Homo sapiens: one gene and its partners. The protein of the gene in region 3 interacts with the protein of the main gene of each other region in a pairwise test. Each region holds a gene or a part of one and is shown on either strand. Other genes may lie near its edges.

The links.
Region 1: the proteins of OTUB2 (region 3) and PMEPA1 interact in binary tests that used the Homo sapiens proteins (3 or more experiments, as listed by UniProt).
Region 2: the proteins of OTUB2 (region 3) and FAM168A interact in binary tests that used the Homo sapiens proteins (3 or more experiments, as listed by UniProt).
Region 4: the proteins of OTUB2 (region 3) and PLEKHB2 interact in binary tests that used the Homo sapiens proteins (3 or more experiments, as listed by UniProt).

What each region holds. Positions count from the first base shown.
Region 1 is NC_000020.11:57,707,003-57,714,516, forward strand, and holds the start of PMEPA1 (protein TMEPAI), read right to left. Parts: upstream 3,014-7,514; 5' UTR 2,581-3,013; coding exon 2,472-2,580; intron 1-2,471. UniProt on the Homo sapiens protein: Functions as a negative regulator of TGF-beta signaling and thereby probably plays a role in cell proliferation, differentiation, apoptosis, motility, extracellular matrix production and immunosuppression.
Region 2 is NC_000011.10:73,399,966-73,406,123, reverse strand, and holds the end of FAM168A (protein FAM168A), read left to right. Parts: 3' UTR 1-5,637; downstream 5,638-6,158.
Region 3 is NC_000014.9:94,036,340-94,043,339, forward strand, and holds part of OTUB2 (ubiquitin thioesterase OTUB2), read left to right. Parts: intron 1-1,040; coding exon 1,041-1,136; intron 1,137-2,623; coding exon 2,624-2,742; intron 2,743-7,000. UniProt on the Homo sapiens protein: Hydrolase that can remove conjugated ubiquitin from proteins in vitro and may therefore play an important regulatory role at the level of protein turnover by preventing degradation.
Region 4 is NC_000002.12:131,100,576-131,108,339, forward strand, and holds the start of PLEKHB2 (pleckstrin homology domain-containing family B member 2), read left to right. Parts: upstream 1-4,760; 5' UTR 4,761-4,823; intron 4,824-7,764. UniProt on the Homo sapiens protein: Involved in retrograde transport of recycling endosomes.

The DNA of each region.
Region 1 (7,514 bases), on a different chromosome or scaffold from region 3:
TCAGATGAAGACAGTGAGGCCCATCATGGCTTAAGGACCTAGCAAGGTCAATTTCCTTCTGCCAAAAGAAGGTATCTTACAGGATAGGAGCCACTTGGACACTGCCTCAAAGCCCAACTCCAAACCATCCATCAAGTTCTCGTTGCAAACAACTCCCAGCATGTACTAGATGAAAAACAGCAGCCACTACTAGTTAAAAGAAAAACCAAATACTAGCTTTTTTCCTTTCTTTTTTCCTTCCCTCCTTCCTTCCTATCTTTTGGTGTAAAGAAACTCCAGGAGACACCAGGCCTTACCACTTCCTCACCCTAGTCTCTCGGGGAAATCTGATGAAAACAAACTGTTACAGTATACCTGCATTTTAAAGACTGGTTGGTTCCCTCCGTGCCTTGCAGCTTTCTTCCAATAAGTAGGGGGCTGTGTATACACAGAACACAGGACTAACTGGGGCACCCAGGGGCCAGCTGGAACAGGCTAGGGTTCCAGGTATTAACCCCAAGGGTCCCAATCACTCAAAGGCTGCTGGCGGCGGCGGGGCAAAGTGCAGAGGGCGGCGGCAAGGCATTTAACAAGAGGCCTTGATGTCAGGTCAAAAACATCATGGACTGATGAGCCTAAGAAAGGACAGAAATAAGAACAATGCTTTTTTTTTTTTTTTTTAAGTCCTGAACCATAAAGAGAGACAAGAGCAAAATGATGCACTGTGCCCAGCCCTTGGAATAAGGGTGACACAAGGATGTGTGCCCCTCGAGCAGGAGGTCCTCAAGGCAGCTTTACAGAGCGAAAGGCAAAAAGTGAGGCAAGGAGGGCACTGAAGCAGCAATCCATCTAAGGCAAGACTCTCCAAACGTGTGCGAACGTATTTTAATAACATTCTCGTGCATTTCATTAGCCTCCTGAGTTCACAAAGGGCCTCTGGGAAGGCAAGTCGGTTCCGCAAACGCTGGCTCTGGGCAGGTCCTCCTGGCACCTCGCTAGTCTGGCACAGGCCAGCTAAGGTGGGGTAGGGGGAGAGCTTTCCATTCCAGGCTGGGAGGGAGTGTGGAGAGGTGGATGGATGGAAGGACCCACCACCAAAGCCCGGCCAGCCTGGTTATTTTTACCACTTGAAGCTCACTGTATAGGCTCAGGGGCCACAAACTGGCAGCCGCCTGCGGACACTTGCTTATGAGCCGCCCAGACACTGCCTTCATTCCACAGCGGCTGCTTCTCAGCTCCGGGCCCCAGCTAGGGGCAGCCTGGCCCCCAGCAGGGAAGGACTGTGTGCCCCTTCACCTGGCGTGCTTCTTCAGGGTGGGGATGGGGAAACTAAAGCTCAGGGAAGCAAAAGGTCCCCGAAAAGGTGGGCTGGGGGACAAGGTGTAGGCTAGAAGCTAGAAGCCAGAACCCGGGAGGTAGTGGTTCAATTCTCCACTCAACCAAATGTCCACCTAGGTGGGCTGTGTGTGCAGGAGGTAGAGACTTACTTATCTGAACTTTTGGGTGCCCAGGCGGCTGCGTTAGCGACAAGGTTCAAAACCCCACTCCCCACCGTTGGTCCACTGATCCCTTATTTAGGGCCAGGCAGTCCCAAACACAAACAGCCCCAAACTTTGACTCCTTTGTAACCATGGTCTCAGCCAGACTGAACCAAGCTGTCCAGACAGAGGCTATTTATAGGTGCGTCGGGGACACAGACACTGGCACAATGACACACACACATTCAAGATCCACGCTGGGCCAGACGGGCCAGAGCTGAGCCCTGGATTCAGACACCTGGACACACACGGTCCCCAGATCCGGCCCAACCAGACCAGACCCCCAGAAAGATGGACACGCTCAAGAAAGGCACCCCGGCCCGGACACGGGAAAGACACACAGAGAGAGGCAGGAAGACTCGGTGACACGCACTCTTGGGCAAGACCGCGACTCAGACCCCCAGACACCCCGAGAGACGCCGAAGACCCAGACAGAGCCACGCAGCCACGCACACTCCACAGACGCACGGACATCCACTCAGAGCCCGAGACACAGCGCCGCGAACACTCCAGACACACGCCCGGAGCCCCAGACACCTCGCAGACCAGACAGTGTCTCACACGCCCCTCCACCCCCGCCCAAAGTTGATAAAGAGCCGGCCTAAATGCTCCATCGCGACTGCCCTCAGGGAAATAAAATGGAAACTTCACGGATCCGCCCGCCCCAACCCTCCCGCGCCGTGCGCCGCCGCTGAGCCCCGGGTCCGAGTCCGGGCGGGCGGGGCGCGGACAGCGGGGGCCGTGCCAGGCTCGCAGCGCCGCGGGACAAAGCCGGGCCGGCCGCCAGCTGCCGCGAGCCGGGAGGGCGCGCCCGGGGCGCGGCGGGCGCTGCCCGGGCGCAGGGCGTTCGGTCCGAGGGGGCGCGCAGGGCCCGGACCCCCGCTCGCAGCTGTGCCCCGACATAGGGTCCGAGCCCGATGGAGTCTCCGGGGAGGGGGGCGTGGGGTCACTCACTGATCTCCATGCTCTGGAACAAAGAGCGTTTGCAGTTGCACGTGCAGGAGACATTGGGCTGCCCGGCGGCGGCGGCGGCGGTGCTGTTGACCCCCATCAAGCGGTGCATGGACGGCGCGGCGGCGCGGCGCGGGGCGCGGGGGGCTCGGGGGCGGCCGGGGGGGGCTCCGGCCGGCGCCCGGAGCTGGGGCCCCGCATGCAGGAGGCGCGCGGCGGGGGAGGCGCGCCCCGGCTCGCCGGGCTCGGGTCGCCGCCAAGTTCCCGGGGCGCCGCGGGGCTCAGTGCGCGGGACCGCGCTCCGCTGCGCCCCCCCGGCCTCCCCTCGGCAGCCCCGGGGGCGTCGGCAGTGCCCGCGGGTGGCGTCCGGAAAATGGGCTGGCAGCGGGGCGCGCGCTGCCGCCGGGGCTGAGCCTCTGCCGCTAGCTTTCCCCAGCCGAGCGCCTCCGCCGCCGCCGCCGCCGCCGCCTCCTCCTCCTCATTCAAGTCCAAGGAGATCGGGTTTCGCTCCGAGACCGCGGTCGGAGGCAGGCAGACGGTCTGACGTCAGCGCTAGACGGGGCTGCCGGTTCCCACCGCGCGGGGGCCGGGGAGGGGGCGCGCGCTGCGCCAATCCCCGCCGAGGTTCCCCCGCACCCCCTCCCCGAGCCGGGGGGCGGGGTGACGGGAAACGGGGCGGGCTCTTAAAGGGCCAGAGCTAGGCGGCCCACGTAGACCCGGCACCCGCGCAACGGAGGAGGGGCGCTGTGCCCTCTCCCCAACGGCGGTCAGCTTGGAACGCCTGCCCGGCGCACGCCCGGGGCCGGGGAGCCGAACTCGGTGCCAGCCGCACCCGGGCGGGTTGCTGGTGCGCCCTCCCCTCGCCCCCGTCCCTGGGGTCCTTGACCCAGGCTCTTGGGGCTAGCCTATCTTCTGAGGAGCACAAGGTCCCTGGGGGCTCAGGGAAGAGAAATTGGAGAAAGGGGGAGGAAGCCCCCAAGATGGATCACCCATTGCCTGGTTTCGCAGGAGACTGTCCGCCTTCAGTTCTCCAGCAGCTCGGGGATCATGGCCCACTGAACCCCCAAGCGCTTTCACCCGAACCCAAGGAGGACGACCAGGAAAGACGGGAACTCGCGTAGACACGCCCGGAAGCCCTTGTCATGTAAATAGCTGTCGGGGACTGGTGTATTGTCGCCGCCCCAGCCGGCGGGACCTGGGGCGAATCCACACCCATTGTCTGCTGCCCAAGGGGCCTCCGGCTGGGGGGCGCGGCTGCGGAGTTCAAAAGGGGTATGAGCAGGAGGGGTGTACTTTTAGTTCATTAAGTTTTAATTACAGGAGTGCTACAAGAACACATTCTTCAGGTTTAAAAAGATATTAAAATATTACATAAGAGACCTCCCCTCCCTGGCCCACCTCCAGCCTCTTAAAAATTTAGTGTGTCGCCTTTTAGACACTTTCTCAAAGCTTCACTTATTTAACAGGCACTTAAGGAGCACCTACCTGTGCCAGAAACTCTCCAAATATTAACTCAACCTGACACCGACTCAGTGTGGCCGAATATTACTCTCCCCATTTTACAGAGCGGGCAGCTGGTCAAGGAAGTCGCTTGTTGAAAGTCACACAGTGGTGGAGCCTGTGTGCCAACCCAGGACCCTGGGGAGCTGCCTCCCCCTCTCCCACGTAGTCCTGATTCTTTAAGTGTCCACATATTCCTGTAATGCCTGGAGTTTCAGTAATTAGCAGGGACTTAGTGTGTTCAGAGAAAAAAAAAGCTTTTAAAAATTATTGTTACTGTGTTTGTAACAGTTTGGATAGAGAAGGAAAAGCTGGAATTTGGGAAGTGAAGGTGGCCTCGGGGTAGAACTTACCTAGACCAGAGCGAATTCATCCTGAAGAACTCAGAGAAAGCCGGTGCAGGAAGTGGGTTCCCGCTCTCCCTGCACAGGCACAGTGATGCTGCCAGAGCTCTCCCAGAAAGACCAGGAGGCTTGTTCTGGAGAAGTCAAGCCCAGGGATGTGGCTCAGGCTGGTCCAAGCTCTTTGGAGGAGTCCAAGCGTGCCCAGCCCAGAGGGAGGTTCAGAGGCACTGACCGTCTTCTGTTTGGGAGGAGAAGCTCACTCTTGGAGCCACAGCCAGCACTAGGTCAGGACCCAGGCCCCGGCCCAGGAGTGGGGCAATACCCAGCGTCTACCCCAGATGGCACCCTGCTGTGAACTGGGCGCCCTCAGCCCCTGCCTTGAGGAAGGGGCAATACCACCAGCGTGTCTTTTATCAGGGAAGATATTGCTGCAGTTTGGCCGCTGCAACTTAAGAGAAAAGCTAAGGGGTCCCCCAGCATCCCTTGGGGTGCCACTGCAAATACTGGCTGGGCCTGGAGATGACCTGGGTCCCATTCACTTCCTAGGGTGAAGGAGGTCATCATTACCACCCCTGCTTTCAGCCATTTCTTCATTCATTCAATCAACAAACTGGCTGAGCTGCAACCCTGAGCCGGGGAATTCAGCCACTCCAGACACAGCCCCTGCCCTCCGGGAAGTCTCGGGAGACCTGGCTAGTCTGGCTGGGAGAAGTCACACGTTGATTGTCTTGGAAGTGAGATGGCATTTACACAATGGAGGCTGCACTGCCAGCAGGCAAAAATAACCAGTTAATTCAGTGGCTTAAAGAAACCAAACCTACCCACAACGCTTGACCTCCCATTGATCCATCTGCGACACCGGCAGTGGCTACCATTTATTGAGTGCTGATGGTGTCACCTGGGATTGACTTAGTGGTCTCTGGCGCTAGTTCCGAAGTTGATTCTGTCTGGAGAGCTTAATGCAGTGTTCAGACCTCAGGGTCCGAACCTGAGGGTCACCCAAAGATGAGTGGGACATAGCTGTGTGACCTCGGCTGAGTGCTTTCACCTCTCCAACCTCAGTTTCCTCTTCTGCAAAATGGGGTGGCTTCATGGCACCTTCACGTGGTGTGATTGCGAGGAATGAAGGGATCGATGCCTTGCAAGTAGAGGAGAAGGGGCCGGATACATCTTAGTTGTTATGTTATTTAATCATCTTGGCAACCCCGGGAGGGAGGAACCACTATCATTTTATTTTCCATTTTGCAGTTGAGGACAATGATGATTCCAGCACAGACAGGGCCCCTGACGGGGCAGTAGGAAAGGAGAATTGCTTTGGAAGGAGCATAGGCTGGACTGCCAGCACTCATAGGAGGCTTCGTGTGTGCCCAGGACTGCGAGAATTAAATACAGGACACCCAGTTCAGTTTGAATTTCAGATAAACTATGAATAATGATTAGTGTAAGTATATCTCAATTTAACTGGATAGCTTGTATTTTTCTTTGCGAAATCTGATAACCCTAGATGTGCCAGGGACTGTGATGCTGGCATTTTGGGCATGAAGGGCAGAGCCCACTGTCAGGCACAGGCAGAGAAGGTCACAACTCCCTGATTCTACCCAGGAGAAATGGGCAGAGCCAAGGTGTTAATGGGCTGAGGAGGGAGGGCTCACTGCTGGGAGTGGGAGTGGGGAGGGGGCACCGCGATTGGGCAGGCCTGAGTCCCTGGGAAGAATGCCACAAGTCAGAGGCAAAAAAAAAAAGGTTTTGTTCACTCATTGAACAAACATTCTGCTCCTATTCAGTGTGAAGCTCTGTGCTGGGTATGGGGCACAGGGCTGGGAAGAAAACCAACTCCCTGACCTCGTGTGACATTGTGGGGGACAAAGGGACTAAAGACACACACACACATGCAAACTCATAGCTCAATGAGGTCAGGAGGTCATTTCAGACATGGTGATAACAGGCCAAAGGCCAGAGTTGGGGTGAGATCAAGGAAGCCCTCCCTGAGGAGGTGGCATCTCATTCCACCTGCAGTTACCAACCACCCACAGGTGCAGCCCCAGCCATACTGAGGCTCACAGGTGAGGCTGACATCACATGTGTAAAAAGATGAGTCCAGGTGATAATTTCAGAGAGGGACGAGACCTGGGAAGAATATAAAAGGAGAGGGTTTGGAGGCGACTTGAGCCCAAAGGGTTGGGCCTCCTCTCTGGGGAGATGTGGGCTGGGCATGTAGGGGACAGTAGAGAGGGGATGCCAGGCCAGTGGGGGCATCAGGAACTGGGAGACTCTCATGGTCCCAGCAGGTTTGGAGTTTGGGACACATTTCTCAGCCTGGCTGTGGCCATGGGGTTGTGAAATGGGTGTGTGAAGCAAATGGATTGTGAAATGGGTGACTGCAGAGACAGGCCTTTCTGGGACTCCAGACAGCGTGTGCCACCATCCGCCCTGCCCATGGGTTGAATCCGCGGCCGGGGGGATTTTCCAGAGGAAACGTCCTGTTTCAGCAGGTTAAGGGGCTTTGCTCCCAGCAGCGCCGCGCATCTGTGCTCTGCTGGACTTGTGTGCAGAGCCAGCTTCGTGGGAGTGTGACCCCCCTGCACTCTCCAGGGCCCCATGCTCTGAAGGGTCGGGGGTTTATTGTATTATTTTATTTATTTATTTTTTAGTTTAATTTTTTCTACTGTTGACATCGTGAAATTCCTAATAGTTAACAGTTTCTGAACACGGGGGCCTGCAAATCTGTAACCAGTCCTGCTCAGATGCCAGGCCCACACTGGCAGCCAGTTGGGACCCCATGGAAGTCAGTGTGGGTTTTGGCCACAGCTGAGGGTGGCTGGCAGTGTTCTGACTGTGCCCGCTGGCCGAGGGTGGCTGGCCACTGTGGAAAGTGCCTGACTGAGCCAACAAAAGTCCTGCTTGGGGAGCCGGTTGAGGGGACAAGGCAGAGGCCCTCCTCAGGGCCAGCCGTGCCCCTGTCTGCCTGCCACCCCCGGCCTGCCTGGACGGAGCTGCCTCTGCAGAATTAGTCTTGGGAAACCTTAGGCAGATTAATGACCTCCCCTCCCAACTTAGCACCTTTGGAAACACCGTCCAGCAGGGTCATTTTCTTCCTCAGGTTGGGGTTAATTGGGGCTGTCAACTTTCACAGGTTAGCAACTTTGGATTTCATTTTTTTTGTCTTGTTTTACTTTTAAACACTAGTAAGAGCCAATGTTTA
Region 2 (6,158 bases), on a different chromosome or scaffold from region 3:
AGGGTGGGGGGAGGGAGGGCATTGTGGGGAAGGAGAGGGAAGAAGGGAGGAGCGGTGCTTGCCTCATGGCTTTGGTTTGAAAGGTCTCTGGCCAAAGCATCTGGCCCTGGACCTTCTGATTTGCACAGTGATGTTAACTGACCTGGCACTTCCTCAAAAGGTGATTTTGTCCTTAGACCTGCCAAGCGGCTGCAGGGTGGTAGGATCCCAGCATCCCGAGGCCTTGGAAGGCCGGATGCCCTGTGTCATCCAGACTTCAGCCTCTGAGCTGTCATGGACCCACTCTGATGAGGAGCTTCCTCCTGATTGGAGTGGGAACCTAGGGCATTTCTCTCCCTTTTCTTTTGCCCTTCCCAGTGCCAGGACTCACCTGTCTGACCATAGAGCTTGCAGGCAGGCCAAGCTCTTGGTTACCTGTGCCATTCATGGCCCAAGTGAAGGAACCACATTCCAGGTGGGTGCTGGCAGCTCTGAAGGTGAGGATAGTGAAGGAAAAGCAATAGCAATAAACATTTCATAGACTCATGGAACTGAAGGGACCTTAGCAATCATCTCATCCATTTCCCTATTTGGCAGATGAGGAAACTGAGGCCCAGAGAAGCGGAAAGGACTTCCCTAGACCTTACAGTAAATTAGCATTAAATGCAGCCTTCCTACCTAGTGGGCACCTTGCTTACAAAAATTTACCTAGGGACGGATTGGCTTGGTTTTGTAAAAATTAAGTCGGCAGCGCCCATACCTGGTGAGTCTGGAATGGTCTCTGGGCTCCTGTTTCTGCTCTTTTCCTCCACGGACTCCAAAGGCGGGGGTTGAAGACTGGGCAGAGGCTACATGGGGGCGGATGGCAGGAACAGAAATTGCAAATGAAGAAATAGCATTTGGAAATTCTGTGAAGACATCTGGAACTTCCGTCCTGTACCTGACTCCACCTCCAGGAGAAGGAGCAGGTGGACTGGCCGAAAAGGAGAGGCCATGCTTTTAGGACAGTAGCCCCTCATCCCGAGAGGAGAGGAAGAGGAGGAAGACAGTGGGAGTCATCAGGAGAGGAGAATGAGGATGAGGCCCAGGAGACAGGCTCATCTGGGAGAAGAGGGACCCCTGGGACGAGGAGGTCCCTGCTAGTCTCAGCCAGGAGCCTGGATTGCCCAGCAGCAGCCTCCGGCACCCAGCGCTTGGCTGGGCCAGCAGCCCCTCTGGGGGTGGGGCACGAACATTTTATTGTAAAAAATGGGATCATTGACAACATTTGGGACTTTAAAAAACTGCTTTCATTTAAAATTCATGCAAACTTGGACATATCCTTACCCCAACCTCCCATGTCTCCCTAAGGGAGGGAAAAATCAGGAAACCCTTGGGTTGGAAGGAGCTCAGAAGCTGTCTAGCCATTCCCAGGAGGGTAAAGCCCATCAGCCTCCTTGGCCTAGAGCCAGGAGTTTGGGGGCCCACCTTCCTGGGCTTCCAAGGAACTTTAGGACCAGTAAGAAAAAATTCAGCTGTTCTAAATTATCTGTTCTGGGTGCTGATGAGGTTTCACTTTAAAACAATAGAAAGTTTTCCAGTGTTAATTCACTTTTTGCAAATACCTCCTTCCACCCTCTTTGGTTTTGTAAAGGTGGGTGAAGGTTGTTCTAGATTATGTCATACGTGTTTGAAAAATGCCAAAATAATAATAATGATAATAATAATAGAAACCTTTGGATTTGTCAGGTGCATCACAGAGGTCAAAGCACTTCACGGCCTTTCATGTACTCGCCCTGAGAGGGACAGGGTTAGAGTTATTACAGTCAATTGACAAATGAGGAAACAGGTTATGGAAGGGAACAGGCCCACAGTGAGCAGCATGCTGGTATCCGCTAGGCTTCCCAGAACCCTGCTGCCTCCATGTGGGCTGGGGTGGAACCACAGAGAGGAGAAAGGAAGAAGAGGAGACCTAGGAATGACCTTGTAACTTTTGTTCTTTCAACACCAGTAAGTAAAACTAACAGCTGGACCTCACAGTTCACAGAACAGTTGAACATAAATTATCTGGTTTAACCCGATGAAATAGAGGTTATTTCTCCTATTTGATCCATAAGGAAATCAAGGCTTGGAAAAGTCAAGTGACTTGCTAATAAGTGACAGAGCCACTCGAATCCCAGGCTGTCTGCTGTCTCGTTCCCCTCCATCTGATCCCCACACAGGCTCACGTACTGAAGCATCTGTGCTCTGTGCCCTATCTTAGCACCTACTATGTAATTCAAGAGCAAAGGGGGGCCCCAAGGTGAAAATAAGGCACTGAAAGGCTGTGGTCTGGAAGAGCCCAGGTCCAGCACCCCTTTTTCAGTATGAGCCCCAGTTCAGCCGGCCTCAGCCTCTTGCTGTGATGGAGATCCACAAGCCTAGCCAAGCTTGGGGAGTCACTGCAAAAGGACTGAGCCCAGGAGAGCGGGGACAGTCATGTGCCTCTGGTAGGATGGGCACAGTTACTGGTAAGGTCACAGAGATCTAGTGGGAGGTACCATAGGTAGATACCTCCAAAGATTCTAGATGGCACGGTGGTCAAGCTAGACAAAAAGTCAGAGCTGGAAGGGCCGTCTCATTGAAGGCAGGCAAGCAAGAGAGGACAAGGGATGTAGCCGCCTGACAGTGAGCTACAGCACTGGCCCCAGGATGCAAACCCCTCTCTCCTCCTCATGCCACTGCCTCTCCCCAAGTGCAACACCTATGGCCAGGATCAGGGGTACAGATGGCTCGTTACCAGCCAACCCTTTTGAATTCTTCTACTTCTACCTGACCCCCTCTCCTCACTGGCCTGGGGTCAAGAAGTTTGAGTCTGGGAGCTGGATTGCCTGCAAATAGTGAAAGCCTGAAACATAATGGTTTGCCATGTTTTGAAAAAAAATGCATATTTAATTTCTTCCTCATGAGATAGGACAGTTGCTGTTCTTTCTTACCTGGCAATGACCCTAAAATGTATATCCTCTTTCCTGAATATTTAGCAGAGACACACACACCTGTCCAGAGCGTTTTTGGTATGCAAAGTACTTTGACATTGGTTGCCAAAGTCCTCCATTTTATAGATGAAAAAACTAAGGCTCAGGAGGCTTGAGACTTGCTAAAAGGTCACACAGCTTGGAAGTGATTCTTCAAATCCTCTGCTCTTTCTGCTGCCACCTGCTGGGTCTCTTGGCAAGCATGGAGGGAGGGGCTAACTGTACTTTATAGAGCTGGGAAGCCCAGTCTCTGAGCTGAGCAGATTTGTATGAACTGCTTTGGGCCAGGACCTGTAATGAGCCCTGGGGAGGGACCCAGAGGCACATCTAACTGGCAGCACAAGGAGGATGAGAATTTGCAACTAAAGGCCTCACTTGGACAAAACACTTTGGGGTCACAATGCCCAGGACCGAAGACATGTTCAAGGACAGCACGAGGCATCTTTCTATTGGGAGACCCATGTCCTTGGTAAGCCTGCACACCTGGCTTCCTAATCCCTGAGAGCCTGCCCACTGTCCAGATCCAGTGAGTTGGTACAAAACGTACAGACTGAAGTCCCTGGGCTTGCTTTTCCCATGGGTGAGGACCAGAACCAGACTCTGAGCATCCTTACCCCTGGCCACCCGAATTGTTCCAAGTTTGAGGTACCCCGTTCCCAGAGATCTGGGGGTCCTTCTTTGGAGGGCTTGCTTTGTTCTGATGGCCTTCAGAAAGGAATCACATGAAGTATAAAAGGACAGGCCCCTTGGTCACCAAGTTTTGGCTCCTCATACAGATAGGACTCATCCAGGTTCCCAGCGAGGCACTGACTAAGCGAGGCTCAGAGCTTCCATATCAAATTCCTCAGCTTTGTTCTGTGCCCAGAGGGGGTGGGCCCCATTCTGGGCCCTGTGAACTTTGTCTTATATATCACCATCTGTATCAGAATTCCTCCTCAATTGCAGTTAAGTGAAAATACGTGGAAGTCTGCTTTTCCATCCTGTATTCTCCCACATCACTACTGGCTGTGCGGCCCCCGCTGCTTGCCAAGCTTGGGAATCCAGAGAGGGGCAGTAGTAGAGTGGGCCAGTTGGGACCCACCCGCAGAGCTGAAGAAACACGCCAGACTAACTGATGGGATTCCACACCGGAGCCTCTGAGCGCACAGGCAGGCATGCCAAGGGGGCTGCAGGGTTTGTCCTTTACTTATCTGCCCCTTTCCTAGAAAACTCCTCGTTTCTGAAATTAGGCATTATATGGTTCCAGGACCCAGCCTTCAAAATTCCTGGCAGGCCAGCTTCAACATTCCATGGCCAGCCCTGCCTAAGCCAGACTTGGGTCCCAGTCCCTCAGTCTCTCCAGTGGATATCTTCTGTGGTGCATGCTGTTGAGTCCAACCCAAAGGCCAACCGAGGCACACAGGAGTTGGGACTGGCTGCCACAAAGCTAGAAAGGGACAAAACAGCACTTGCTTCCCTATGGCCACATGGATAGTCCCTGGATATCCTTGCTGTGGTAGAGGTCCTCTACCCATTCCAGCCACTGATAGCAGGGGGATTTTCCTTCCTAAGGAGAACAGATGTAACAGCTTTGCAAAGTACCGGCCCATAGGAATCAAATGGGTGAGATCAGCTTTGGGCCTGACCCCAGCAAGACCAGCATCTCCAGACCCCAGCCTTTCTCCTCAGGCCTAAGAGAGTCAGGGAAAGAGAGGAGACTGTCCCAGAGACCTTCTCCTCGGGTCAGCCAGATAGTCTGGATCTATGGTGTGACTCAAGCTCCTCCTTACCCAGGGGGGGTAAGGCCAGGCCTCTAGCTACTTGGAGTTGTCTGTAATAATCTTGAAAGGCCCAAGGGCCTGTCCCCATCCTGACTTAAAGGCATCTGCTTCCCTGTTTCATATCACATGACAGAGAAACCTGTTCTCATGGCATGTAACATCCCTGTGAAGAGAGCGTTGTATATGATTTTGTATTTTTTAATTCATTTTAATCTACAGGTTGGAATCTAATTTTTAAATTTTATTGGAACTCACATTTTAAAAAGAAATAAAATTTAAAATAATAATAATAATAATAATAATAATAATAAACCTTTGACCAGTGTCTTCCAAGTAGTTTGATCAAAGAATTTATAGGTGTTTTCAAAACACAGTCCGGAGTGTAAAGATTGGAAAGCCCCATGGCCTTGCCTGTGTGTATGAAGTGTAAATCTGGTTTTGTTTTGTTGTTTTGGATTCTTTTGGGTTTTTGTTTTGTTTTGAAGATCAGACAGTGATCACTCTGAAAGATTGAAGCCAAGAATTTGTAACTATGGTATTTACTGTAAGCTGTAGAACACTCAATAACTATTAAAAAAAAAAATTCCCCCCCAAAAAAAAGTCTTAGGTGACTAGACTGAGTGGTTCTTGGGGAGGGAGGCACAGAGGACTGTCCTGGGCCAGTGAGTCCCTTGGGCGTCTCCCCAAGTTGATGCTAAATTTGTTCTCAGTAGTCAAGAAAAACCTATGGTACATCTTACAGCTGATCTGACAGGGGTCTGCCCTAAGGGTCTCACAGCTGCTGGGGAGCTTTAAGTGGCAACTTCAGCACCCACCCTAAGTGTGTGATGTGGGAGCACAGTGAGGCCATTCAGAGTTGAAATCCATTGAGCCATCCGCGCAATAAAGCTGACATCTATTGTGTGGCTGGTGCCTGCTGCTCATGTTTGTTAAGGCATTCGGTCCTCACAGCACACGTGAGGTGAGCCCTGTTGTTAGCACCATCTTAGATGGGGAAGCTGAGGAGGGTAAGTACCTTGGCCGATGGTACAGAGCTGGTGAGAGGCAGAGTTAGAACTCACATTTGGCACTTGTTCTGGCTCCATAGCCCACGCACCAAGCCCCATGTTCTGCCCATCTCAGAGCAAGCAAGGCCCGAGTTTGTTTTGTTTTGTTTTTGTTTGTTTTTGTTTTTGAGACAGTCTCTCACCCAGCTGGAGTGCAGTGGCGCAATCTCAGCTCACTGCAACCTCCACCTCCTGGGCTCAAGTGATCCTCCCACCTTAGCCTCCTGAGTAGCTGGGACTACAGGCGCACACCACCACTCCCAGCTAATTTTTGTATTTTTTTGTAGAGGCGGGCTTTCACCATGTTGCCCAAGCTGGTCTTGAACTCTTGGGCTCAAGCGATCTGCCTGCTTCAGCCTCCCAAAGTGCTGGGATTACAA
Region 3 (7,000 bases):
TGCTCTATTGCATAAAAATGGTCTCCCTGGGTTGTGTGCAGGAGCCAGCCTCATTTATTTTAAGCTGTAAACTATAAGTGGCTTTAACACCATGTCTCTCACAGTATGTTCATGCTGCAATCAAAGCGGCTCTGGGTGGGTTGGAGGCTAGAGTTGCATCTCCTGCTTGTTTGAGCCCTGCTGACAAGATAGCACAAGGCGGAGACCAGGCCCACGGGGAGTTGGCTGCTAGAACGTGTCTCCTGCAGTTTCCTTCACCCTGAAGCTTCCTTTTGCAGTTGCCTCCTCTCTGTCCGCCAATTTCTTCTCTGGCCTGGAGAGATCCTGCCTGTAGGAGGCTTGTCTTTCTGGGTTGGAATTGACCTAGACCCAGAGCTGGGCTGTAGTGTAAACTTTCGCCGGTAGGTGGTGCATGAAGATGCCCTCCTGCCCTGTGCTCCCCGAGCTCAGATCTCTGACACCTTCTCTGGCATCTCCATGTACCAGTGCCACACACTGCGGCCTCTTCTGGTGACCTTATCACCCCCTATCTTGATTGTTTTTCCCTGTAGACTGTGAGCCTTGTGGGTGAGGGAGTGCTAGACGTCCTTCCTTCTGTATTTCCAGCATGTGACACAGTGCTGGGCATGTGGATGTTCAGGAATTGTTGGATGAGTAAAAGAATGAATGAACGAATGAATGAATGCATGAATGAGAGAAGAGGGATGGAAGGAGACAAAGGGCCTTATCCTCCAGCATGAAGGTTCGTTAAGTTTGAGGTACACATTCTGTGAAATGAATCAGGCTTCCAGTAAAAAGATGAGTTTCCTTATAACCAGGGCTATCTCTTCACGATGGCCCCGACCCTGACTATCCCTGTTCTGGAAATGCGGTGATCCCAACGGGCGTCTAGGATGCTGGTAACATACTCCCAGCATGAGAAGGTGGGAAGGTCTCATTCATTGTTGTCTGTAACCGGCAGTTCAGAGGCCACCAGCTCGGGGAGTCCCGTCCGTTGCTTTTGAAATTGTCACAGCATTTCTTCCTTCCCTATCTTTCAGAGTGAAACATCTTTCAACCTAATATCAGAAAAATGTGACATTCTATCCATTCTTCGGGACCATCCTGAAAACAGGATTTACCGGAGGAAAATCGAGGTGAGGCAGAGGGCAGGGAGAAGAGCATCCGAAACTAAACAGGCTGGAGTTGGGAGTGTAATGGTGATGCCTCTTTGAAGGCCGATAGTTTGGGCCAGGTTCCTGGGCAAATGAAAGGATTCCTAGGATATTTTGATGTTGGACATTTGCCTTAGCGATAAATCCTTTCATTCCAAAAAAAAAAAAAGGATTTTTTTTTGTTGAAAAGTTTAGCACTATCCTAATGTTTTATTTACTCACCAATACTTCATTACAACTCTGTGAGGTAAGTACTTTTATTACCCCCATTTTACAGCTGAGGAAACTGAGGCACACAAATTAAGTGGTGGCCATTTAGTTCATGAGTGGCCAAGCTAGGATTTAAACCCAGGCAGCTGAGTCTCAAGCCACATTCATAACTGCTGTGCTGGGAGACCTCTTGGAGGGAAAGTTTACGCCAGTGAGGCTAAAGGGATTTGTGGGAAGGCTGCAGGGATCGCTCATGGAGCACTCACCCGTGGATGGCAGGAGGAGCTGGGTGCCCACTCTGTCCCTCTGGTAGGAGGCCCTGGCCGCTCTCTGCACTCTGCAGGTCTTCCTCTCGCTGCAGGACAGGCTTGCTCTGGCACTGGCCCCACAGGCCCTTCCCTTCAAGTTCCTCTCAGACACGCAGCACCGTTGCTGGGCCTCATTACTTATCCTCAGAGACTCTGATAGGTCCAGCTTGGGTCAGATGTCCATCAGCAGCCAGGGGTAGTGGTGTGGGCATCATGTGATCCGAACGCCGCTGCGGGGCACTTCCAGGGAAGGAGCTGGGCTCTGCAGCCCACTGACTTTTGTGTCCCCCAGAGCCCTCCTGGGAGATGAGCCAGGGGCTCCAGAGAGTGCCTGCCTCCCCACTGCCAGCTGGCCTCAGGTGGGCCCAAGTCGGCTCTGAGCCTTCTCATGGCTATGGGGGGAACAGGAACTCCAAGACCCCTTGAAAACCATCCTCTGCTGTCAAAATGCTGCTTATAGTCCCATGAGGCAGGAAAGGGGATTCCAGGCCAGTTCAGAGGGACACCTACTTACTGCTAGGAGTGGAGCTGGAGCCCACCCCTCCCGCCCCTGCTCACACATGCAACCCCCTACCCCCTACTTCTGCCAGCTCCCGATTCTCAGTGCTGCTCCCCCAGGAAGGCTTCCCCAACTTCCAAAATCCAGTGCAATGCCAGTGCCCCGTGGCACCCAGCCAGGCACTCCTGTCCCCTCACAATGCCACTGTCTAATTATCCATCTTCCCTCCCGGACCGTAGGCTGCCTGGGGGCAGGGACGGACACACAGGACAATGCAGTGTATTTTTATATCAGGGGAATGAACGAGGGTGGGAGGCTGAGGGGATAGCAGCCTGAAGGGAGGGAGCAGACATTTCCTGGGAGAGATGGGGGGCACCTGGCCAGTCCCAGTGCCCAAACCACACAGAGCCGTTGTTGGTGCAAATGCCCACATTTCTTTCTGTCCCCCTCAGGAACTCAGCAAAAGGTTCACCGCCATCCGCAAGACCAAAGGGGATGGGAACTGCTTCTACAGGGCCTTGGGCTATTCCTACCTGGAGTCCCTGCTGGGGAAGAGCAGGGAGATCTTCAAGTGAGTGCCGGGGCCCCTTGGCCTGTCAGGGCTGTGTTCTCTGTGCTAGGTCAGCCTCAAGTCTCTCGGAGGTTTTCGTTACACTCAGGCTGGTTAACCCAGAGAATGAGCTGAAGAGCTGCCTGGCAGAGGCGTTTGATGTTGGGGGTGCCCAGCTGCCTGCTGTGGTGAAGTTGGGGGCAGCCAAGGGGTGGAGGATGGAATCTGTGACCTCCCAGATGCTTTCCAGCCTCTGCTTCCACCACAGGCCTGGGTCAGCCCAGGTGAGTCGCAGGGAGCAGGTACTTCGTGACCCACTCTGAAAAGAAAAGAAAAGACAAACAAAAAGAAGCTTTGCCCCGGTGTTCTGCATAATTCCTGTTGACCTTGGTGTGGAGTGTGTGTGACCCAGGCATTCAGCTGGCTGGGCCTGTCCCTGAGGTTCATGCTGGAGAAGGTCTGTGTCCAGAGCTGCCCCTGTCATCTCGGCTAGTTCAGGGCTTCTCATATCTGAAGTTTGTACAAGGCGCCTGGTTCTCTAGTCCATAGCAAGAAAAAAAAAAGCAAAGACAAACAAACCCCTGAGACCTGGCTTGGACCCGAATTCCTGTCCAGTGGGAGCAGGGCAGAGCAGGGACTGCTTTTGTCACTGGCTCCCAGGAGATGCTGATGCTGCTGGGCCTCAAACCACGCTTTGAGGAGCAAGGAGCTAAGAGACCCACCTGGCTCTTAACCTTTGGGGGTCTCAGAGCCCTTAGAGGCTTTGGTGAGGGCCATGGGCCCTCCTCATCTGAGACCCGCACCGACATGCTCTCTGGAAACAGTACGGGGGGCAGTGGGTCCCAGAGCACTTCTTTGGCTGAGGCAGGTTTCTCAACGGCGGCATGACTGACGTTTTGGGCCAGATCATGCTCACGGTGGGGGCTGTCCTATGCATTGTAGGCCTATTAACAGCATCCCTGGCCCCCTACCCGTGACATAGTAGTAGTAACCCCCTCCCCAAGTCATGACAATCAAAACTGCCTGCAGACACTGCCAAAAACCTCTTTCGGTGGAAAAAAGTCGACCCTATCTGGTTGAGAACTACTAGGTTAAGGCCATCGTCTCCTGTTCAAAATATAGATGATCTCAAAGAGGGTAGAAGTTGAGCCATCTGTTCCTTGGCTGAACCATTCAGATTGTTTTGCCAGTGACAGACTGGCAGAGCCCCTTTTGATGGAGAGTCAGCTATCTCAAGCCATTCCCCTCCCCAACTTTCTCACAGCCCTGTGGGGACCAACACAGCACAGTGCAGGGATTATGACCCCAACTTCATTTCCCCACGACCCATGTCCCCTGGAGTTGTGCCATGCAGCAGCCCTGGGCTCTGAGGCCAGACCTCACTCTCTTGCTTACTTGCTGTGCGACCTTGGGCAAGTGACCTGATCTCTCTGATCCTGTTTTCATGCCTGTGGAAGGTGGACATTATAACACACTTCAGGGGGCTATTGTGAGGACTCAGTGGGTGATGCTGGCTAAGCCCAGCGCCTGCATTTCTCTCTGCACCAGCCCACGTGCTCTGTTTACCTTCACTCCGTCCTGTCTCCCCACTCCAGTCAGCACACACGGGTGCCATGCTCAGACCCTTCTCTAGGCTGTGGGGATACTGCAGTGAACAAGAGAGACAAAATCCCTGCCTTGTGGGGCTTGCGTCCTAATGGTAGAAGATGCACAGTACATGAGTATCACGTTTGAGGTGTCGGATGGTGATAAGTATTGTGGGAAAAATCAGGCAGGAAGGAGGCCGAGGAGTGCAAGGTCTGGGGTTGGCAGTTTCAAGCAGGGTTGGAGAGGTAAGGGCGGCAGGGCACATAGGGCCTTGGGCCTTTCTAAGGACCTTGGCTTTCAGCCTGAAGGACACGGGAGCCACCGAGGGATTGCGCAGCACGGGGGACCTGCCCTGCTGGCTGCTGTGTGCAGGACAGACGGGGGCGGAGACACAGCCAGGGAGATGTGGTCGGGGAGAGATCCAGAGGGGAGATGGCTGTGGCATGAGCAGGTGGATGCAGTGGGCATGGCAAGAAGTGGGCAGGTCTAGACACCTGTGAAGGTGGCGAAAGGATTCGTGCCCGACTCACATGTTGGACATGGCAGAGTCAAGAATGGCTCCCAGAGGTTTGGCCTGAGAGTTAGCAGGATGGAGAAGCCGTTTGCTGCAAAGGAGGGCTGAGGAATATCAGGAGCTGTGTTTTGCGATGCTGTCTGAAATGTCCGGGAGCCATAGAGTAGGGGTGTCTGGTGGGCAGTGGAGGTATAAGGCTGGCGTTCAGCAGGCAGGCCGGGGCACACAGGTGATAAGTCAAACCAAAAGGCTGCATGAGACCACCAGCATTTTTTCTTTCTTTTTTTAAAATATTTTCCTTCTCTCTTTATTTTTTCTTAAGAGATGGGTCTTCCTATGTTGCCTAGGCTGGCCTCGAACTCTTGGGCTCAGGCGGTCCTCCCTCCTCAGCCTGCATCTTCTTAACACAAAAACCGAGACCATGTCACTCCCAAGCTTGAAATATGCCCCTGACCTCTAGGAGCAGTGGAAACCCCTGACACCAACGCCCTCCACACCAGGCCCCTGCCTCTCCTGCCCCGTTGCCTACCCACCCTGAGTTCTAGGCACAGGGACTCACTTATCCTACACACACCAGAGCTTGCAGGCATGACATGCCGCCTGACGCTGCCTGGGCCTAGGTAGCCCTGCTTCTGACCCGGCTGTGGGTTCCTTGGGCCCCAGGCAGGCTGCTTCACTCACTCCTCTGTAGCTCCTTTCCCCAGTTGAACAGTGGCCATAGCCCTGTCACGGACATTAAGTGATTGACTCGTGAGCACTTGGAACACTGACCTGGGGTGTTCCGTGCTAGCTCTTAGCGTCAGCGTCATGCATCCTCCACAAGCCACTGTCTCCCTGTGTGCAGTGAGCCCAGAGCCACCCAGGCAGACACTTGTTCTCTGCTCAGTGCTGCTGCAGGGCTGGAGCAAGCGTGTTGCAGCAGTATGCTTGTTCCAGCCCTGTATCTTGCATACTTGCTCTAGAAGTATGCGAAGTACTTGTGTGTGCCAGAGGCTTGGAGAACACGCGCCGCCTCTGAGGGCAGCCACTGTTACTACCACATCTGATGAGCAAACAGAGCCTCATAGAGGTCAAATGACTTGCCAGAGGTCCCACACAGGCTTGTGTGCAGCCCCAGCGGTCTGAACTTGCACCCCCTCCAAGCCCCAGTGCTATCCTTCTCCCTATCCCTGGCTTGCCTCTCGGGGGTGCATGTCCTGGCCTGGGGGCTTGCCCCCTTCTGACAGAGCCTACGACTGCATGCTGCTTATCTCCGTGCCCCAGTGCCTGGCACAGAGGGGCCCACAAGTCACTGGCGAGGAATGAATGTGGAATGAGGCAGAGGTTTGGGGGTGGGAGGGGGGGCAGGAGAGCTGGGAGCAGAGCAGTGCACTTCATGGCCATGCAGGGACAGAGTGGCTAGAAGAGGGTGCCGGCCCTTGGAGCAGCCCTGGAGGACTGCAGCTGCTTCCTGGAGCTGCTTCTAGTACTCTGGCCATGGGCCACCTAGCCGCAGCTGAAGACTGAACAGGGGGTGCTGATGAGGGTGGCTCCTGAGTGAGAGGCGTTAGCCAGCACTGACCATCAGATCCTTGCCCTGGCCAGGAGGGGAAACCTAGGCAGCAGGTACCACTGCAGTGGAGGCCTCGTCCTCCCAGGCAGCTCTCCGTTCGCCCTCAGCACCCCTGCAGTCAAGGCGTCATCACCATCCACACTTGCGCCAAAGTGGAGCTTATGGCCAAAAGCCACAGGGGGACTTGACAGGGCTGGAGGGGACTGCGGCTAGAAGCCAGCACAGGCTCCATCCCTCCAATCCAGGCACCTCACCCTGCAATCAGGACAAACTAGTCCTGGCCCAGGCAGGACTGTTAGATATGCCAGGACCAGGCAGGGGCAAGCGGCATCTAGGCAAATACTCCTCCTTCTGAGTTAGGAGACCAGCTTCCCGTCCACACCCACCACCTTCTCCCTCCTCACTGCCCCCTGTCCTCCTACAAGGCACCAGGCTTTTCTGGAGCACAGCACCTTCTGAGGTGGCCCAGGCCTCTGTATTCCCTTGTGAACCTTCTGCCTCCTGGGTGCTGTCAGAGCCTCATCTCCGTTCCCAGGCAAAGTGAGGGGCTGGAGAACTAGGTGTGGCCTTAGTGTTCTGCGCCTGCCAGCTGGTCACCCAGGGCCGCTCACCTGGTCCTTGTGGGA
Region 4 (7,764 bases), on a different chromosome or scaffold from region 3:
CTGAGGTTGGGAGTTCGAGACCAGCCTGACCAACCTGGAGAAACCCCGTCTCTACTAAAAATACAAAATTAGTCGGGTGTCGTGGTGGGTGCTTGTAGTATCAGCTGCTTGGGAGGCCGAGGCAGGAGAATCGCTTGAACCTGGGAGGCGGAGGTTGTGGTGAGCCAAGATCGAGCCATTGCACTCCAGCCTGGGCAACAAGAGTGAAACTCCGTCTCAAAAAAATAAAAAAAAGAAAGAAAGAAATGGATTCCACTGTCTGAAGAAAGCCATGGCTTCTTAGTAGATGTTGAGGGCAAAATGAAGTAAAATTTAGGCATGCAAAAACTCATTGTTTCCCACCCCAAAAAGCAGTTACAAAGTTTCCGTATAGGAGAAGCAAAGGTGCAGCCAGCATGCTGGAACGGCTTCCTGCGCTGCACTCTGCATTGCTTGCCCCTGCTCTTCTCCCTAGTGCTGTGTGTCTGTTTGGGATGGACCTGGGTGTTGGTAAACATTGTGGGGCAGCTGAAATCCTACTGTTCCACCCTGGCTACTTTTATACATATAAAAAATTTCGGCCGGGCGCTGTGGCTCACGCCTGTAATCACAGCAATTTGGGAGGCTGAGGCGGGCGGATCACGAGGTCAGGAGATGGAGACCATCCTGGCTAACATGGTGAAACTCCGTCTCTACTAAAAATACAAAAAATTAGCCGGGCGTGGTGGCGGGTGCCTGTAGTCCCAGCTACTTGGGAGGCTGAGGCAGGAGAATGGCGTGATCCTGGGAGGTGGGGCTTGCAGTGAGCCGAGATCCCGCCACTGCCCTCCAGCCTGGGCGACAGAGCGAGACTCCGTCTCAAAAAAAAAAAAAAAAAACACAAAGAAAGAAAAAGTAAAGGAAGAGTGCCTGTTATCTCCTATTCCTTGGAAGCTCCACATTCCCAATTATGTGGGGTGTAGCAGGGGAGACATGGTATTTTACTTCATGTTCTATTTGGAGTTTTTTTTTTAAATTTACTTATGTTTTTGTATATTTTGTTTTACTATGTTGTCCAGGTTGGTCTTGAACTTTTGGCCTCAAGTGATCCTCCTGCCTCGGCCTTCCAAATGTTGGGATTTCAGGTGTGAGCTAATGTGCCTGGCCTGGAATTTCTTTTTTAACCACCAGAACTTCTCACTTTATTTTCTTCAATAAAGAAACGCATACTAGTAACTGGGCAAGAAATGGAGTGGGGCTTAGCAGCAGGTAATTTGGTTTGAGCCAGTTGAGGGCCACAGAGACAGGTGACTGATGGGTACAGAGTCCCAATGCAACTCTTTGAACTCTTGGACTTCTCCCTCTCAGTTTCAGACAAGAGGCTGCACATTCAGATAGGGGGCTGGAAAGCAGGCGTCCTCACCTGCACCCAGCCTTCTTTCCCCTGGCCTCTTCTCAATAAACATGAACAGGAAGCCAGTTTTTCTTTTCTTTCTTTTTTTTTTTTTTTTTTCTGAGTTGGAGTTTCACTCAGTCGCCCAGGCTGGAGTGCAGTGGCACAATCTCAGCTCACTGCAACCTCCGCCTCCTGGGTTCAAGCTATTCTCCTGCCTCAGCCTCCCAAGTAGCTGGGATTACAGGTGCCCGCCACCACGCCTGGCTAATTATTTTGTATTTTTAGTAGAGATGGGGTTTCACCACGTTGGCCAGGCTGGTCTCGAACTCTGGACCTCGAGCGATCTGCATGCCTCGACCTCCCAAAGTGCTAGGATTACAGGCGTGAGCCACCACGCCCAGCCCAGAAAGCCAGTTTTACTGAATCAGAAAACTTGTTATGGGACACTCCCTCCTCCAGGTACTGGAACGCCTACTTAAACTGAACTTTATTAAAATATTACTTTTTTTTTGTCTGGGTGCAGTGGCTTACGCCTGTAATCCCAGCATTTTGGGAGGCCGAGGCAGGTGGATCACGAGGTCGGGAGTTTGAGACCAGCCTGGCCAACATGATGAAACCCTGTCTCTACTAAAAATACAAAATAAATAGCTGGGTGTGGGGGCGCACACCTGTATTCCCAGCTACTCAGGAGGCTGAGGCAGAATAATTGCTTGAACCCAGGAGGCGGAGGTTGCAGTGAGCCTAGATGGTGCCACTGTCCACCAGCCTGGGTGACAGTGAGACTCCATCTCAAAAAAAAAATTATTATTATTTTGAGGCAGGGTCTCATTCTTTTGCTCAACCTGGAGTGCAGTGACACAATCATGGCTCACTGCACCCTTGACCTCCCGGATTCTAGTGAAGCTTCCCTCTCAGCCTCTCAAGTAGCTGGGACTACAGATGCATGCCACCATGCCAGTCTAATTTTTTTATTTTTATTTTTTTGTAGAGAAAGTGTCCCACTGTGTTGCCCAAGCTGGTCTTGAACTCCTGGGCTCAAGTAATTCTCCTGTCTTGGCCTCCCAAAGTGCTGGGATTATAGACGTGAGCCATCACACCCAGCCTTAAATATTACTTTTTCCTGTTGTTGAAGTGATACATATTCATGAAAGAAAACTTGGAAAATGCAGAAAAGTAGAAAAAAGAAATGTCATCCACAGTCCCATCACTCAGAGAGAATGTGTTAGTGTATTTTTGGATACTCCAAACTCAGACCCTGAAAGGTCCCTAAGACTGACCCTGAAGGTGGTCAGGGCTAGTATAGCCTTAATGAGGGCTGGTCAAGAAGCTTGTTGATGTCAGGCAATTTACCCGAGCTCATCCAGAAGCAGCGGAACCAGGAAGAACCCCATGTCACACAAATCTCTGAACTCTTGTGTTGACTAAGCTATAATATCTTGCAAAAGATGGGATTGCAGGCATCATAGGACTCCCTACCCTGCATTTTTTAAATTTTCCCCAGAGAGGAGCTGGGTTAAGACAGGGGCCCTGATTGGCAGAGTTTGGGGTTTTGAAGACCAATAATAATAGGGCTCTTCCAATATTTTTTTTAAGAGTTTTTCCCTTTTAAATTTAGATATAATTTATACACAGAAAAATGTACAAATCTTTTTTTTTTTTTTTTTTTTTTTTAGATGGAGTCTCTCTGTCGCCTAGGCTGGAGTGCAGTGGCGTGATCTCGGCTCAGTGCAACGTCTGCCTCCCGGGTTCACACCATTTTCCTGCCTCAGCCTCCCAAGTAGCTGGGACTACCGGCGCCCGCCACCACGCCTGGCTAATTTTTGTATTTTTAGTCTCTGAGTATCTGGGATTACAAGCGCACCACCAGGCCTGACTAATTTTTTTTTGTATTTTTAGTATGGACGGTGTTTCACCACGTTGGTCAGGCTGGTCTCAAACTCCTGACCTCGTGATCTGCCTGCCTCGGCCTCCCAAAGTGCTGGGATTACAGGCGTGAGCCACTGTGCCCGGCCAAAAATGTACAAATGTTAAGTATAGTGTTCAGCTTGATAAAGTTTTACTTACACACACGTACCCACCACTCAGATCAATGTATAGAACATTTTCAGCACCCTAGGAGTGGGGTTGCCAGGAGGCTCTCTCAAGCCTCTTTCCAGGCAGTACCCCTACACCACCCCCCAACCCCTGCTAGGCTGGAACGCAGTGGCTTGATTGCAGGTCAAACTTCTGGGCTCAAGCAATCCTCCTGCCTCTGGCTCGCAAAGCTCTGGGATTACTGGCATGAACCATCTCACCTGGCTAACATTTATTTTCCCTCTATTGTCTTCAGAAAACCCCCAACTTTTCATCTGGAATAATTTTAGACTACAAAAAAGTTATAAAGCTAGTATACCCTTCACACAATTTCTCCTAATGTTAACATCTTACATAACCATTATACATTTCTTATAACTAAAAACTACTATTACCTAAACTTAAATTTTATTTTAAGTTTATAGCCTAGCTACATCACCATGTTGCATATGACAGTGTCTCAGTTTTTTTCTTGCTTTTGATTACCTTGATAGTTTGAGGAGTACTGGTGAGGTGTTTTGAGGAATATCCCACAAACGAGATTTGTCTGATGTTTATCTTTCAGTTAGACTGAGGTCACGGTTTTTTTTTTAATCACATGTCAAGGGCAAGTGCAGTGACTAATCACTTTGATTTTCACGTGGAGTGGCTCTACAGCCCTCTTTCCACACTGTACTCTTGGAAAGGTCGTCCCCAGGCATAGGCCACACTCAGGGTGGGTGTGGACGGATTACCACACCCCTCTGGATGAGGTATTATTAGAATTCCTCTGCAAGGAAGATTATCCCTTCTCCCTCATTTATTTAATCACGTATTTATAGCAGCACGGGCTCTGGGCTGTTTTATACTTTAGGTTATAACTTAATGCAATGTACTTTATATTGCTGCTCAAATTGTCCCAGGCGCGGCCCCCGGAAGCTCTCTGGGTAGATCCCTGCGCCCTTGGACGCCCGGTCCTTCAGTTTTTTGAGCACCTCAAGCTTCTGGCCTACAAAACGCTCCCGGCTCAGCTGGAGCTTTCTGCGCCCGGGTCCTAGAGTCGCCCATTTCTCTAAGGCGCCTTGGCCCTATTTTTAGAGAGCGGTATTTAGAAACCAAGATTAGGGTGCTAACAATTTTTTTTTAAATTTTTATATTTTTAAGACAGGATCTCACTTTGTAACACTTCCTTTTAGTGGAAGCGCCGACCTCCTGGGAGACCCACGCCCCCTGCCGCCTTCCGTCCCGTTTCTCAGAAAACCACCCAGACACCCCGCCCCACCGGCCGGGGCCCGCCGCGCATGCGCGCCGAGGCGTGACGTCAGAACGGCGGCCAGGACGCCGGACGTGCGGCAGTTGCAGGCGAGCAGGCGAGGAATCGCCGTGGCGTCTTGGTGTTCTCCACGCTGGTTCGCAGGTGAGTGTCCCTGTTTAGTCCGGACGACCCTAGCTCCTTTCCCCTCTGGCCCGCGCCTCTCCAGATTCTCCTCTAGAGCTGCCCAGCCTCGCGCCCCTCTGAGGGGACCCCGCACCGCGCCACCTCCGCGGTGTCCCCACTCCCTAATTTTCCCTGAGGCTCCTGGCCACGGGTCCGCCCACCTCCCTGGACCACCCTGACCTTCCCCAGGTCCGCCCTCTCAGTCTCCCCTAGAGCAGCCCATTCGAGAGCCCTCCCAGTGGGCCCCCCCGGCCTCTCAGACCCCTTCCCATCGCTTCCCCGGCGTCCGCCTCCGGTCCTTTCCCCGAGCCCCTCCTCTCCGGCCCCGCGGACCCTCCTCCTTTCCCGACTGCAGCCTCCGCCTTGCATCCTTTCTGGCCGCTCGGGAGTGTCCCACATGTCTGACTGCCGGGACCTGCTGCGGCCCGCCGCCTGGGGTCTCCCGGCGTCCGATCTCTACCCCTGCTGCTCCCTCTGCTCCAGGGAACTTGCCTTCTCAGTTCTCCTGCCCAGAGGTCTCCCCTCCTTAAGTCCCGGGGGGCGTTGAGGCTTTACCCTCGCGGTGCGGTCCGCCCCCGCTGCATTTCACCTGCTCTTGGCCTTGCAATGTCTTTAGTCATAAGTGCTTGGTGTACCTTATCTTACATATCTCTCTTCATGTTTGATTCTGTTACTCAACTAGATTGAAAACTCCGGAGGTCAGGGATTTGCATAGGGATCCCCGCCCCGCCACCCCGCTTAAATCTCAAATGTAGACCGGTTCAGGGTGGGTGGAGGAAAGGAATGAGGTGGAGTGGTCACTGTAAAAAATTAAAGGAACATGGTTAATTCAAAATAATACTGACTCATGGTCTCAGCCTTTAAATTTTTAGTGCTTAGGAAAGGGTGGAACCACCACCGAGGGAGGAGGGCTGACAGCTGAGGGGAGGAATATTCCAAGGTCTTCTGTGGCCTTTGGTATGAACCAGTACCAATTCAGGAAGTGACTTGTCCGAAGTCACATGAGGAATTAGGACCCGAGCTGGCACTGGTAACTGCCTGTTTAGTGTGGCCCTCAGTATTTGTTGACTAAACTAATGACCAAAACATGTATGCACAGACACAGCTGTGCGTCTGTGCCCATGCAGTGGGTGTGTCTGCCTAAGGACCTGTGGGGGTGTGGGAATACTGCTGTGACGGTTCAATTGTGGTGCTCAGGAGTGTTCCCTAGGTTCAGAAAGTTCCTAACCCTGGGCTGGTTGGCTGGATATTGATAGGACTGGAGCTTGTCTGGGCTTCCTTTGTGCCTGGTGTTTACTCTCTGTGGTGGTGATCTCTTTACTCGACTCTTCCCTATTCGTACTGATCTCCCTGAGGACAGGAATCAAACTGTGTTGCAGGGTTTCCCTAATAAACAGCATAGTGTTTGGCACTTTGTAGGTGGTCAGTAAATGCTTATTGAAGAAGGCTGCAGAAAAGAACTCAGAACCTGACAGCGGTTCTTTGCTAGCATTATATTTTAAAGGCGGTGGTACATTCTGTAAGTAAATTTCCTGCTATTCTCAAGGACTGAGTTGATTAAATGTGTACAGCAGTGGTATAGAGAGGACAGATACTCTTGTGGTGTTACTCCTTGGGAAGGTGGAGGTTTCTCTCAGCTCTTTCTGAAAGCTTTGCTTATGCTTTTCAGCTTGCATTAATATTTTTGTTTCTCCTTTCCTCTGCCTGCCTTCTTACTGTTTGTCTAAAGAAATTAAAGAATTACCTTATTAATAACAGTAACTACCAAAAACTGCAAAACACACTGTTAAAAATGCTCCCAAAGTGGGGGCTAATTGACCCAGTTGTTTTGTTAGTTATATATTTGCTTCCACAGTGGATCATGGAAACGGAAAGTTGGACTTCCTTGCCTCTTTGCTTTCTTTGCCTGTCTGCCCTTTGATGGTGCTTGTATTAGGCTTGTTGTTAAGAAGTGGTTCCCAACTGGAAATGGCCAATGCCACGTGGGAACTGACCTCTACATGTTGATGGGTCACCCAACCTTCTTTCCCTTCTGTTTCAGAATGTACCTGTGACATCTCTTTGACTCTCCACTGTTGCCCTTGAAGAACAGAGATGAGTTTTCTTCCTTTTTCATAAGGAAGCCACTTTTATAGCGAAAGAGAGCTGGAGAACTGGGATATCATGAGGAGTTGTAGACAGTTAAACCTGAATTCTAGCTTTTGGAACAAAATAGTAATGTAATTGTAGCAGTTCTCACTTTTTTATTTTTTATTTTTTTGAGACGGAGTTTCACTCCTGTTGCTTAGGCTGGAGTGCGATGGCGCAGTCTCGGCTCACTGCAACCTCCGCTTCCCGGGTTCAAGGGAGTCCCCTGCCTCTGCCCCCCAAATAGCTGGGATTACAGGCGTGCGCCACCATGCTCGGCTAATTTTTTGTATTTTTAATAGAGATGGGGTTTCACTATGTTGGTCAGGCTGGTCTCGAACTCCTGACCTCAGGTGATCCGCCTGCCTTGGCCTCCCAAAGTGTTGGGATTATAGGCGTGAGCCAACGCGCCTGGCCAATTCTCACTTTTGGACCATCTACTACAGGGCTGTTTGGACATACCTCCTTTAATTGTCACAGTAACCCCATGACGTAATTGGTTGTGCCTGGTCATACAGGTAAGAAAACTGAGGCTTAGAGAGGTTTAGAATTTTGCTGAAGGTCATACTAGTGAGTAGAAGGCAAAGTAGGCTTCAGGCTTAGAACTGTCAGATTCCAAAGGCAGTATTTTTTGTCCATCTGTTGTCTGTTTCGATTCAATGCTTTCAAAGAGATACAAATTCAAATTTAAAATAATTTAAATTGTTGAATATGGCTTACATTTTAAAGCTTTGCATAGGTTTTATTGGCATAAAAATAATGTTCTTTTGCAGCTAGTTTGCTGGTGTTTTAT